Linked DNA regions of Homo sapiens. The protein of the gene in region 3 purifies or fractionates together with the protein of the main gene of each other region. This does not show direct contact. Each region holds a gene or a part of one and is shown on either strand. Other genes may lie near its edges. The genes, in order: SLMAP, CTTNBP2 and STK24.

The links.
Region 1: the proteins of STK24 (region 3) and SLMAP purify together in Homo sapiens (affinity purification with mass spectrometry; 6 studies listed by BioGRID and IntAct, with this or other methods). This does not show direct contact.
Region 2: the proteins of STK24 (region 3) and CTTNBP2 purify together in Homo sapiens (affinity purification with mass spectrometry; 3 studies listed by BioGRID and IntAct, with this or other methods). This does not show direct contact.

What each region holds. Positions count from the first base shown.
Region 1 is NC_000003.12:57,759,244-57,762,896, reverse strand, and holds part of SLMAP (sarcolemmal membrane-associated protein), read right to left. Parts: intron 1-3,653. UniProt on the Homo sapiens protein: Associates with the striatin-interacting phosphatase and kinase (STRIPAK) core complex, forming the extended (SIKE1:SLMAP)STRIPAK complex.
Region 2 is NC_000007.14:117,863,342-117,866,994, forward strand, and holds part of CTTNBP2 (cortactin-binding protein 2), read right to left. Parts: intron 1,232-3,653; exon of another isoform or gene 1-1,231. UniProt on the Homo sapiens protein: Regulates the dendritic spine distribution of CTTN/cortactin in hippocampal neurons, and thus controls dendritic spinogenesis and dendritic spine maintenance.
Region 3 is NC_000013.11:98,458,547-98,462,199, forward strand, and holds part of STK24 (serine/threonine-protein kinase 24 isoform b precursor), read right to left. Parts: intron 3,352-3,653; coding exon 3,228-3,351; intron 1,895-3,227; coding exon 1,826-1,894; intron 1-1,825. UniProt on the Homo sapiens protein: Serine/threonine-protein kinase that acts on both serine and threonine residues and promotes apoptosis in response to stress stimuli and caspase activation.

The DNA.
Region 1 (3,653 bases), on a different chromosome or scaffold from region 3:
AAAAAATTAGCCAGGCATCTGGGCATGGTGGCTCATGCCTGTAATCCCAGCTACTTGGGAAGCTGAGGCAGAAGAATCACTTGAACCCAGGAGGGAGAGGTTGCAGTGAGCCGAGATTGCGCCACTGCACTCCAGCCTGGGAGACAGGGCAAGACTCCGGCTCAAAAAAAAAAAAAAAAAAAAAAACCATTCTACTATCTGCCATCTAATTTGAAGAGCTTGACTTCCGAAAAGGATGAAGGATAATACACAGGGCCAGCATCCAACAAGGCAATATCCAACTGCTACATTACTGAGAAGATGATTTGGTAAAGATTATGAAACTCTGCTTTGTGCCAAACCTGTCACCCTTCAACATGCAGATTTAAGTATTATACAATAAGATATTCCATGAGCTTAGCATTAAAAAGTGTCACTTAGATTTCCACCTGCCTACATTTTGCAGATATTCTAAAATGAACATGTATCATTTGAATAATCATAAAGTTTCAAGTGTTTATTATTTCTTCCAACTTTTTTTTTTTTTTTGAGACAGAGTCTCACATTGTCACCCAGGCTGGAGTGCAGTGGCGCGATCTCAGCTCACTGCAACCTCCGCCTCCCGGGTTCAAGCAATTCTCCTGCCTCAGCCTTCCCGAGTAGCTGGGATTGCAGGCACATGCCACCATGCCCAGCTAATTTTTTGTATTTTTCGTAGAGACAGGGTTTCACCGTGTTAGCCAGGATGATCTCGATCTCCTAACCTCGTGATCCGTCTGCCTCAGCCTCCCCAAGTGCTGGATTACAGGCATGAGCCACCAAGCCTGGCCTATTTCTTCCAACTTTTTTTTTTTTTTTTTTTTTGAGACGGAGTCTCGCTCTGTCGCCCAGGCCGGACTGCGGACTGCAGTGGCGCAATCTCGGCTCACTGCAAGCTCCGCTTCCCGGGTTCACGCCATTCTCCTGCCTCAGCCTCCCGAGTAGCTGGGACTACAGGCGCCCGCCACCGCGCCCGGCTAATTTTTTGTATTTTTAGTAGAGACGGGGTTTCACCTTGTTAGCCAGGATGGTCTCGATCTCCTGACCTCATGATCCACCCGCCTCGGCCTCCCAAAGTGCTGGGATTACAGGCGTGAGCCACCGCGCCCGGCCTTCTTCCAACTTTTAATGAGCCTCCCATAATGGACAATGCAGAATGCAACAGTCACCACAAAGTGAAAGTCACCCAAAGCACATATTACCCCAATTGTCGACCGCCCAGGTAAACTGCCAATTTAGACAAAGTTATCAACTACATCAGTTTCAATTTTAAAAATTTCTTCTGGCCAAGCACAGTGGCTCATGCCTGTAATCCTAGCACTTTGGGAGGCCGAGGCAAGTGGATCACCTGAGGTCAGGAGTTTGAGACCAGCCTGGCCAACATGGTGAAACCCTGTCTCCACTAAAAATACAAAAATTAGCCAGGCATGGTGATGAATGCCTGTAATCTCAGCTACTTGAGAAGCTGAGGTAGGAGAATCTCTTGAATCCAGAAGGTATAGGTTGCAGTGAGCTGAGATCGCACCACTGCACTCCAGCCTGGGTGACAGAGCCAGACTCCGTCTCAAAAAAACAAAAAACAAAAACAAAAACAAAATTTATTCTATATATGCCATCACATTAAAGAAAATAATTTCTCATCACCTTCCTAAGACTCCATAGCACTATAGCAAATTGCACAGTGTTGTCTAAATAGTTCCCTCTTCCCCACTAAACACCCTCTCTGCTGAGTATTGGGTGCTTAGTAAGAGCCAGGGACAGGGTGCTAAGTGATTTATATAATTACCTCAATTCTCAAAACAATAATAGGTACCATTATCATCCCCAGATGTTTAAAAAAAAAAAAAAACCTGGCCGGGCGCGGTGGCTCATGCCTGTAATCCCAGCACTTTGGGAGGCTGAGGTGGGTGGATCACCTGAGGTTGGGAGTTCAAGACCAGCCTGACCAACATGGAGAAACCCTGTCTCTACTAAAAACTCAAAATTAGCCACGCGTGGTGGCGCATGCCTGTAGTCCCAGCTACTCGGGAAGCTGAGGCAGGAGAATCACTTGAACCCAGGAGGGAGAGGATGTGGTGAGCCAAGATCGCGCCATTGCACTCCAGCCTGGGCAACAAGAACGAAACTCCTTCTCTGAAGGGATTCTTTTTTTTTTTTTAAGAGACAGGGTCTTGCTTTGATACCCAGGCTGGAGTGCAGTGGCATAATCACAGCACTGCAACCTCAAACTCCTGGGCTCAAGCAACCCTCGTGCCTCAGCATCCCGAGTAGGTGGGACTACAGACACTGCAAATTTCATACGAGAACTATTTGGTCGCACTGTGGGTTTTCTTTGGAACTGTATCCCTCACAGTGTCTGGCACATAATAGATGCTCAATTAAAACCTACTATCTGTCCAAACCAAAACTTTAAATAGTTAATTCCTAAAACAATTCAATGACATGGTAAGATCTGACAGAGCATCCGCTATAACTAGATTAAGTGGTATAATAATCAATAATTACATCTATATCTAAAGTAGTGGTCTCATAGCCTGCGTGTTATTTTAGCTAATAAAGCAGGAGGAAAAAAGTGAAAATGGTAGAAATAAGCCATATCTACCATTCAAAGATAAGTTTTTCTGAAGAACTAATTTCATGGCCGGGTGTGGTGGCTTATGCCTGTAATTCCAGCACTTTGGGAGGCCGAGGAGGGTGGATCACTTGAGGTCAGGCGTTCAAGACCACCCTGGCCAACATGGTGAAACCCAGTATCTACGAAGAATATAAAAATTAGCTGGGCATGGTGGCATGCGCCTGTGATCCCAGCTACTCAGGAGGCTAAGACACAAGAATCGCTTGAACCCAGGAGGCAGACGTTGCAGTGAGCTGAGGTTGCGCCACTGCACTCTAGCCTGGCCACAGAGCGAGACTCCATCTCAAAGAAAAAAAACAAATATTAACATGTCATCTCAATTCATGAAACAGTCACTACTGACCTATTCTTAGTTATCTCAAAATAACCTATTGTGAGAGTTTTAGTACAGCCATGGAAAGCACTGGGCATGAAATCAGTATTTTTCAAATAAGTAAAACAAAAAATGGGAGTCCCCTTCGAGTGTTTCATCAAAGAAAGTGCATTCGCAGAGTATGTACTGTGAGCCAACCTGTTGTCTGATTAGTTTAGACCTGTTGCCCAAGAACATAAAATGGTGAAAATGTAAAAGCTGGTTGAGTTAAGGCACTACTTAGTAGTAAACTGATGTTTGAATTCAACTGCTGGAAAAATGAGTTCTATGAATATTCATTTTAAAGAATTATGAGGGCCAGGTGCAGTGGCTCACGCCTGTAATCCCAGCACTTTGGGAGGTTGAGGCAGGTGGATCAACTGAGGTCAGGAGTTCAAGACCGCCTGGCCAACATGGTGAAACCCTGTCTCTACTAAAAATACAAAATTAACCAGGCATGGTGGCGTGTGCCTGTAATACCAGCTACTTTGGAGGCTGAGGCAGGAGAATCACTTGAACCCGGGAGGCAGAGGTTGCAGTGATCTGAGATAGCGCCACTGCACTCCAGCCTGGGTGACAGGAGCAAAAATCTGTCTCAAAAAAAAAAAAAAAGGATTACGAGTAATCTATGAAGTATTTTAGGCACCC
Region 2 (3,653 bases), on a different chromosome or scaffold from region 3:
TCAGAGATTTCTTGCAGATGCTCCCTATGAACAGTAAAATCCAATGTACCAAGTCTCAGTTTCTGCTCCTACTACACAGTAGTGTCCATAAGGTCTTATAAACTAATTGTTCTCAAACATTGGCATGCATAAGAATCACCTGAAGACCTTGTGAAAAAACAAGCCACGGGGCTCCACCCCTGGAAATTGTGATTCAGTGAGTCCGAGGTGGGGCTGTGAATCTGCCCTTCTAACAAGCTCCTGCTGATGTTGCTGGTCCACGGACTACATGGTGAGGAGCACTTCTGTAACTCATGCCATCCTCTGTTTTCTCATCTGTATAATGGAATTCCTAACGTCTACCCTGCATTCTTGTGAGGATTAAACAAGAACATATCAATGAAGTAAGTGCCAAATGAAGGCAGGCGATTGTTATTATTAACCCAGATGTTTCATGTAGAGAGGAATGGGGTATTGGCCAGGAGCCTATTTCTTTGAAAATCTACCAGCCCAAGTCCAATAAACTCAGTTTATTCACTATGATGAAAGACAGGCTCTTTTATCCTGGTTTTTCCCACTGAGATGGGAGAGTAAGCTGCAATTCTTATGTGCTTTAGAGTGTAATGCTTTATTAATGATGCTGCTGGTTGCTCTAAAGATTTTAATTAATTGTATATTTTATTGTCTTGTTTCTCCAAAGCTTTATAAGCAAAGTGCTCCATTTTAAAAACTAATAAATTATGAAAGACATTGCCAAGATCCTGATTCATATTAGAGTCAGGAGAGCCTGCCCTGCTTCCATCAGTAGCAGCAACACATGTGACCTACAGCTAAAACTTCTGTTTTTCTATGTATTACCATCAATAAAGAGGGAAATTCATTAAAATAAAAAATATTGGTACAAGCATTCTTGCTAAACCATAGATTATGTCACACAGAATGTTAAAAATAAATCTGTCTCCCATCACAACATATGAAGTGATGTACTGTTTGAAACATACAGTGCATCTGTCTGCTTGTCTCTCTTCCCTCTATGACTCCACCCCCACTTCTCCACTACTAGTCATAGTAAAATTTCTCTACTAATTCCTGGCCTTCCATAGTACAAATATAATAATAATATTTTCAAATTGTCAACAACTTTTATTTCCAATTCTATTCTGGCAAAACAGGGTTAAAAAAAGTACTGTGCATGAAAAGATGCTGGAGATCTTAAGACTCCAAGTATTTTATAAATATAAAGCACTTTAGCATTTTTAGAAAAATAACCCCAGAAGCAAAAATTCTAACAAAAACTACATTTTTGTTAGAATATATATATTCATATATCTAGATGTATGAATATATATTCATATATTTATATATATTCATATATATTCATATATTCATATATATTCATATATACATATATTCATATATATTCATTCAATATATATTCATATATATTCATTCAATATATATTCATATATATTCATTCTATATTCATATATATTCATTCAATATATATTCATATATATTCATTCTATATTCATATATATTCATTCAATATATATTCATATATATTCATTCAATATATATTCATATATATTCATTCAATATATATTCATATATATTCATTCAATATATATTCATATATATTCATTCAATATATATTCATATATATTCATATATATATGAAGTGGCATTAATCTTAGATGCATATGGTACAAAAGTACTTAGATATAGAAAAAATATTAAAGTTTCTTGGTTTAAGAGCCAAACGAACTATTTTAAGTCATATAATGTTTATAAAAGATTGCCTTGATAATCTAATTTTCAAATTGGATAGAAGACAGGACAGATTCAAATGCTGCCACTCACACAAAAAAATTAAGGTCTCTATCAGGGCACCATGAAAACATGACCCCCAAATCCCCAACGCCCCCCAGAAAAAAATCACAGCAGACATGTTCGCAGACTAAAGTTTACTATTGAACTTGCTTTTCCCAATTAAAAAAGAAAAATCCAGCTATTTTTTAGTGATGAAAAGAAACTAAAAACAAAGTAAAACCAGACCTGTGCCAGGCACGGTGGCTCACGCCTGTAATCCTAGCACTTTGGGAGGCCAAGGCCGGCAGATTGCCTGAGCTCAGGAGTTCAAGACCAGCCTGGGCAACATGGTGAAACCCCGTCTCTACTAAAATACAAAAAAAAAAAAGAAAAAAAATTAGCCAGGCATGGTGGCATGCACCTGTAGTCCCAGCTACTATGGAGGCTGTAGGTGGGAGAATTGCTTGAACCCAGGAGGCAGAGGTTGCAGTGAGCAGAGATCGTGCCACTCCAGCCTGGTGACAGAACAAGACTCCATCTCCAAAAAAAAAAAAAAAAAAAGAAAAGAAAAAATAGAAAAACAGATTTCAATTCCACAGGCCACTCTTCTGCCTGTTACATTTGCCAGGAAAAGCATTCCAGAAAAAGTGCTTAACACCTAGTTTTAAAAATCTGGCATGGCAGCTTCAACTAATCCAGAATCTGGTCATCAAAGTATGTCTTGTTTAGGATACAAGTCATATATATTAATTTATTGTATGTTAATCTATTGTATATTACAATTTATTATATATAATTTATTTAAAATTAAAAAGTATACTTATATAATTATATATATAATATATACATATATATAGTATATTATGTATAAATGGAAAAGGAGAAATAATCCCAAACTCAACTGTTCAACACTGTAGTTTTGAACAGCTCTGAATTACTTGGCGCAAGCGTGGGGAGGGCATTCTTCAGGATTTTTTCTCATACAGGCTGAGAAAGAGAGAAAGAGACAGAATAGACAAAACAGACCCTGGCTGAGTAAACTCATCTTAAATTTCCAGAATTGAACACAGGCCAATACCAAGTTTCCCCCTCCCCAAATCTAAAACACTAGGTTTATGTGGGGAATTCAATAGATACAGCTAAATATTAACAGAAAAGTCTTACCCATACCCTTTTAGAATTAGTGGAACCAACCAACAGTGATTGATTATCAGAATGCCTTCAGGAGACATTATGAGCCACAATGGCAGAGACACCCCTCAGATCTTTCCTCAAACACATCCGTCCTATCAGGGCTGCTGGGGGATATGTTGGTGACCAAACACAAACTCAGGCACTTTCTCTGGCTCTTCCCACCAACACCAAGAGCCTCTCTTCCAATTTAAAATCCAGCAGGTTGTGCCTATTTTCCATCAGTAAGCTTTACACAGGAGAAAGCAGGCAGACTGGAAGGTGGGGTGATGAGCAATGTGGCTAGGGAAGAATCAGCAAAGTAGGGCAAATCATTTCATCTGTTTGAATCTCAGGTTTTCCATCAGTAAAAATAAGGATGCTGGAGTAAGTGATCTCTTAAATCTCCCCCATCCCCTAAATGTCCTGATTTCATGTACCATCAGGGTAACTGGATTACTGGACTGAGGAAATTCATTTAGGTCATTTCCTGAGCCTAAAAGCGTTTGTGAGGTACTTGAGGAAAACTGATTTTGCCTCTTTGCTCAGAAGTTAGAGAAATGTATTTTCCTCCCAGTTTAATAGTGCATGCCAATAATAATGCATTTAGAACTTTCTATGTAAGCAAGATTTATGCTTTGGGGATGAATAAGGGCTATCAAAAAGGAAAAGCAATGAAATCAACTTGAAAGTTC
Region 3 (3,653 bases):
ACGCCGCCGGCCCCGAGGCGGCCACTCGTGTTTGTCTAGGACTCCCAATCACTTGACAGTATTTACAAGTCCCGAGAGGGTCAGCTACAATCCAGCACTCTCCCTCCTGCCCATGCCCCGCCCCTAAGTCTCAAAGAAGGAGCAAAGGCGGCAGAAGGGCCGCCCTGGGAGAGGGCCTGTCCCCTTGCCGTGTGGAACGTGCTGGACCCATCACTGACTTCAGGGAGCAACCTGACCTGTGCTCCCTGAAGGAAAGCAGGGACGCCAACACCCGTCTCCTCAATGTCCTCATCTGTAAGCATGGGGATATAATCCTTCTACTGGGCTTCTACAAGTATTGTATGAAATAATACACAATAAACACTCTGAACTCTAGGGTAGCAAATATCATTCTTAAAAATACATTGGGAAAGATGCCTGTGAGTTTAGCAATTGGTTACCTGGAAAATCCAGGATATGACGGCGTTTAGGATATGTCCTGAATAATTATGTCAAAGTTGCTTCATGGGCCCAGTAAAAAAATAAACAGCCTCAGGAGAATGAAAAAGTCCATGCACTTTCCCTAACTGCCTGACTGACCCTATTCCAGCGGCCAATGGCAGGGCCGCAGGAGCACAGCCTGGAAATCCCACGGGGCCAACTCCCATGGGACAAAATGAAGCGCAGGATGGCGCTCAACCCGGACATCCTAGTTAGGAAGAACACAGGTGCCCAGAACCATGAGCCAGGGCTGAAGCCAGACATCATCCAGCAGGGCCTCCGCGTGCCCTGTGGCTTCCCCGACACCAGCGGGCTCGGCTACTTCCCACTTGAAGCTGCAGGTGAGGCCTCGGGCTCTGGCCACAGCCCTGCTCCCACCGGGCCCTGAACTTGCCAGGTCAGAGGCCCTCAGACAAACCCTCCAGGGCACCTGCTGGGCAGGGCAACAGGTGAAGGCTTATTGGAGGGCTGGGAAGAGGCACTGGCAGGACCGTGGCTGGCCAGGCACGGCCCATGGCCGGGGGTCCCCCGCTGCGTGACGCAGGCACAGGGGAGGAGAATGAGCTCCTATGACACTTCCTCTCCTGAGCACCTCCCCTTCAAGGACCAGGACCCCTAAACACAGCCGCAGTGGAAAACTGCCCAAAGAGGGAAGATCCCCACGCAAACAGATGCGTGTGTGGCCCACAGTGAGTACCTCAAAGGCAGCCTCAGCCAGGAAGGGGCACAACAAGAAAAGAGGGGACTTCCAACTTATTTTCAAATCCGCTACTAACCAGATGCAGAACAATCTTCATTCTTATAAAGCCTACTTTTGAAAATCTCTCAAAACACGGCCACGGGAGCACTTTCCTCTGGGAGGGAGAGGCTGAGCAGGGAGTGGGCGTGGGGAGGCCCAGCTGGGAGCACAGCACTGCTGAGCAGAGGAGGGACTTCAGTGAAACATGTGGCTCAGGGGAAACCGGAGGACTCCAGGGCATCCAACGTCTCCTTAGAAGAAAGAATCTACTTTTCACATGGCCAGAAATTGGTCTGAGGCAAAGAGAGCAGGCTGTACACAATGAGATTTGCTAAAAAGCAGGGCAACGGGTGACACAGGGTCTCGGGCTGGGTCACTGTCATCCAGTCTACACATTCCAGGCTGCGGCGGAGTGGGCATCACCCAGGACAGGGGAGGCGCAAGGTGGTGCTGACAGCCTTTGGGAAGGCACCATGCAGGCTTTCCGAGCCTTTGCCAGCTTGTCTTAATGTCCCCAACTCTTAACTGGCAACATCACCACTGAAGTGTGTCCAGCTTCTCCTTCCCCCTCCCCTCCCACTCCGAAAAGGCCAGCCAGGTACCTACCTCTGCAAACAGAGGAGAAATAATTGTAGATAAACACTGAGAGAAAGGCCTCTTCGGGATGTCTTTCATCTTGGGGGAGAGGGAAAAAAAGGTCATCAGAAACAGTTGACGTTCACATTGGCAATAATTTAATAAACCTCCCACCTGGACTATGGAAGCGCAGGAGTTGCCTCTACACTTCACGCTGAGGAAACACCCTCTGCGCACCATAACATCTGAAGGAGACTATCGGCTGCCTCTCACTAGACTTCAAAGTTTCATCTGCAGTGACATGCAAAACCCACGCACCGGGGAAACCAGCATCTGGGTTCCATGTGGAAGGGGACTCTGTGTGGGCACAGGCGGTGAACTGCCTCGTCTTGCTATCTACGCAGAAGTGCTTTACTGGTTGGGCGTGGTGGCTCATGCCTGTCATTCCAACACTTTGGGAAGCCGAAGCAGGAGGATCACTTGAGCCCAAGAGTTCGAGACCAGCTTGGGCAACATAGTGAGACCATGTTTCTATTAAAAAAAAAAAAAGTTTTAAATAAACTGGGCGTGATGTCACATGCCTGCAATCCCAGTTACTCAGGAGGCTGAGGTGGGAGGATCACTTGAGCCCAGGAGTTTGAGGCTACAGTGAGCTCTGATGGCACCACTGCACTCCAGCCTGGGCAACAGAGACCCCGTCTCAAAAAAAAAAAAGAGAGAGAGAGAGAGAGAGAGAAAAGTACTTTACTAATGAAACCCTGGAAATAGAAATCAGGTCAAGATTGGCCATTCCAATGGCTGTCTAGGACAGAGACCGAGTTTCTACTTTTGCAACCTCTATTTGGACATTTAACACCTGTTCACTTATCAAAGCGGGACTTGTAGGATCAACAGGGGACAGCCACTGGCCCACCCTGCCTGAAAGAAACTACACCACTATGCTTTACAAGACCCTAAATATATGGCCTTTCATAAATTTAACAGGCATAAAACCAATTAATCAAAATTGTTTTACATAAATATCAAAAGCAATGCATTTACTTATAAGGTCCTTAAAACTCAGTCACAAAATTATGATATGTATGTAAGTAACCGCAACATGCACAACAGTCCCTCAGAGCTATGAAGTCATTTCACGGGTCACCCCCAAACCCCATGACATTGCCACATCGGGACATCCTAACTCAACAGCAGGGCTGCAGAGAGCAGAATAGAGTGGCACAAAACAGACCAGAGGCCAGACTCCCTGGTGTGAACACCTGGATCATCAGACAGAACTAAAGCTCTTCATCTGCCCATCCCCTAGCAACAAAATTCCAGGACAGCTGCCACAAAGGACCCCAGCCGCACCCACAGCAAGCTTCACACACAAGTGCCTCCAAAACACTGCAGACTGAGGTCAGCGTGGCCATTCTGGAGTGAGCAGACGTACCTTATTTCTGTCCAAGTCCGATGGCTGAAGAGCTCCATTCTCGAGATTCTTGGGATCTTTTTCTCGGATTGTGAAGATCCAGTCCCCAGAATCACTGCCCCCCGAGGCTTGGCCATCTGTTTCCCTTAACACAGAAATGCAGGAAATCCCATCAGTGCTCGCACACCTGCTCTGGGGGCGCTGGGACGTTCAGGGGGAGGCCGCCTGGGGACCTCTAAACCCACACCCACCAGCCCCAAGTCCCCACCCATCACACCCTTGTCCAGTCCCTCTGGGATTTCCCAAAGACCCCCCCGCCTCCTCCCTCACAGAGAAGAGACCATCGGGAGGTGGTTCCACAACTCCCTGGCGTGCCAGTGTGTGCATGCCCACCCTCCTCCTCCTCCCGGAGAACACCTCCCCCACCTCCCTGGGAGCCCATCTCTG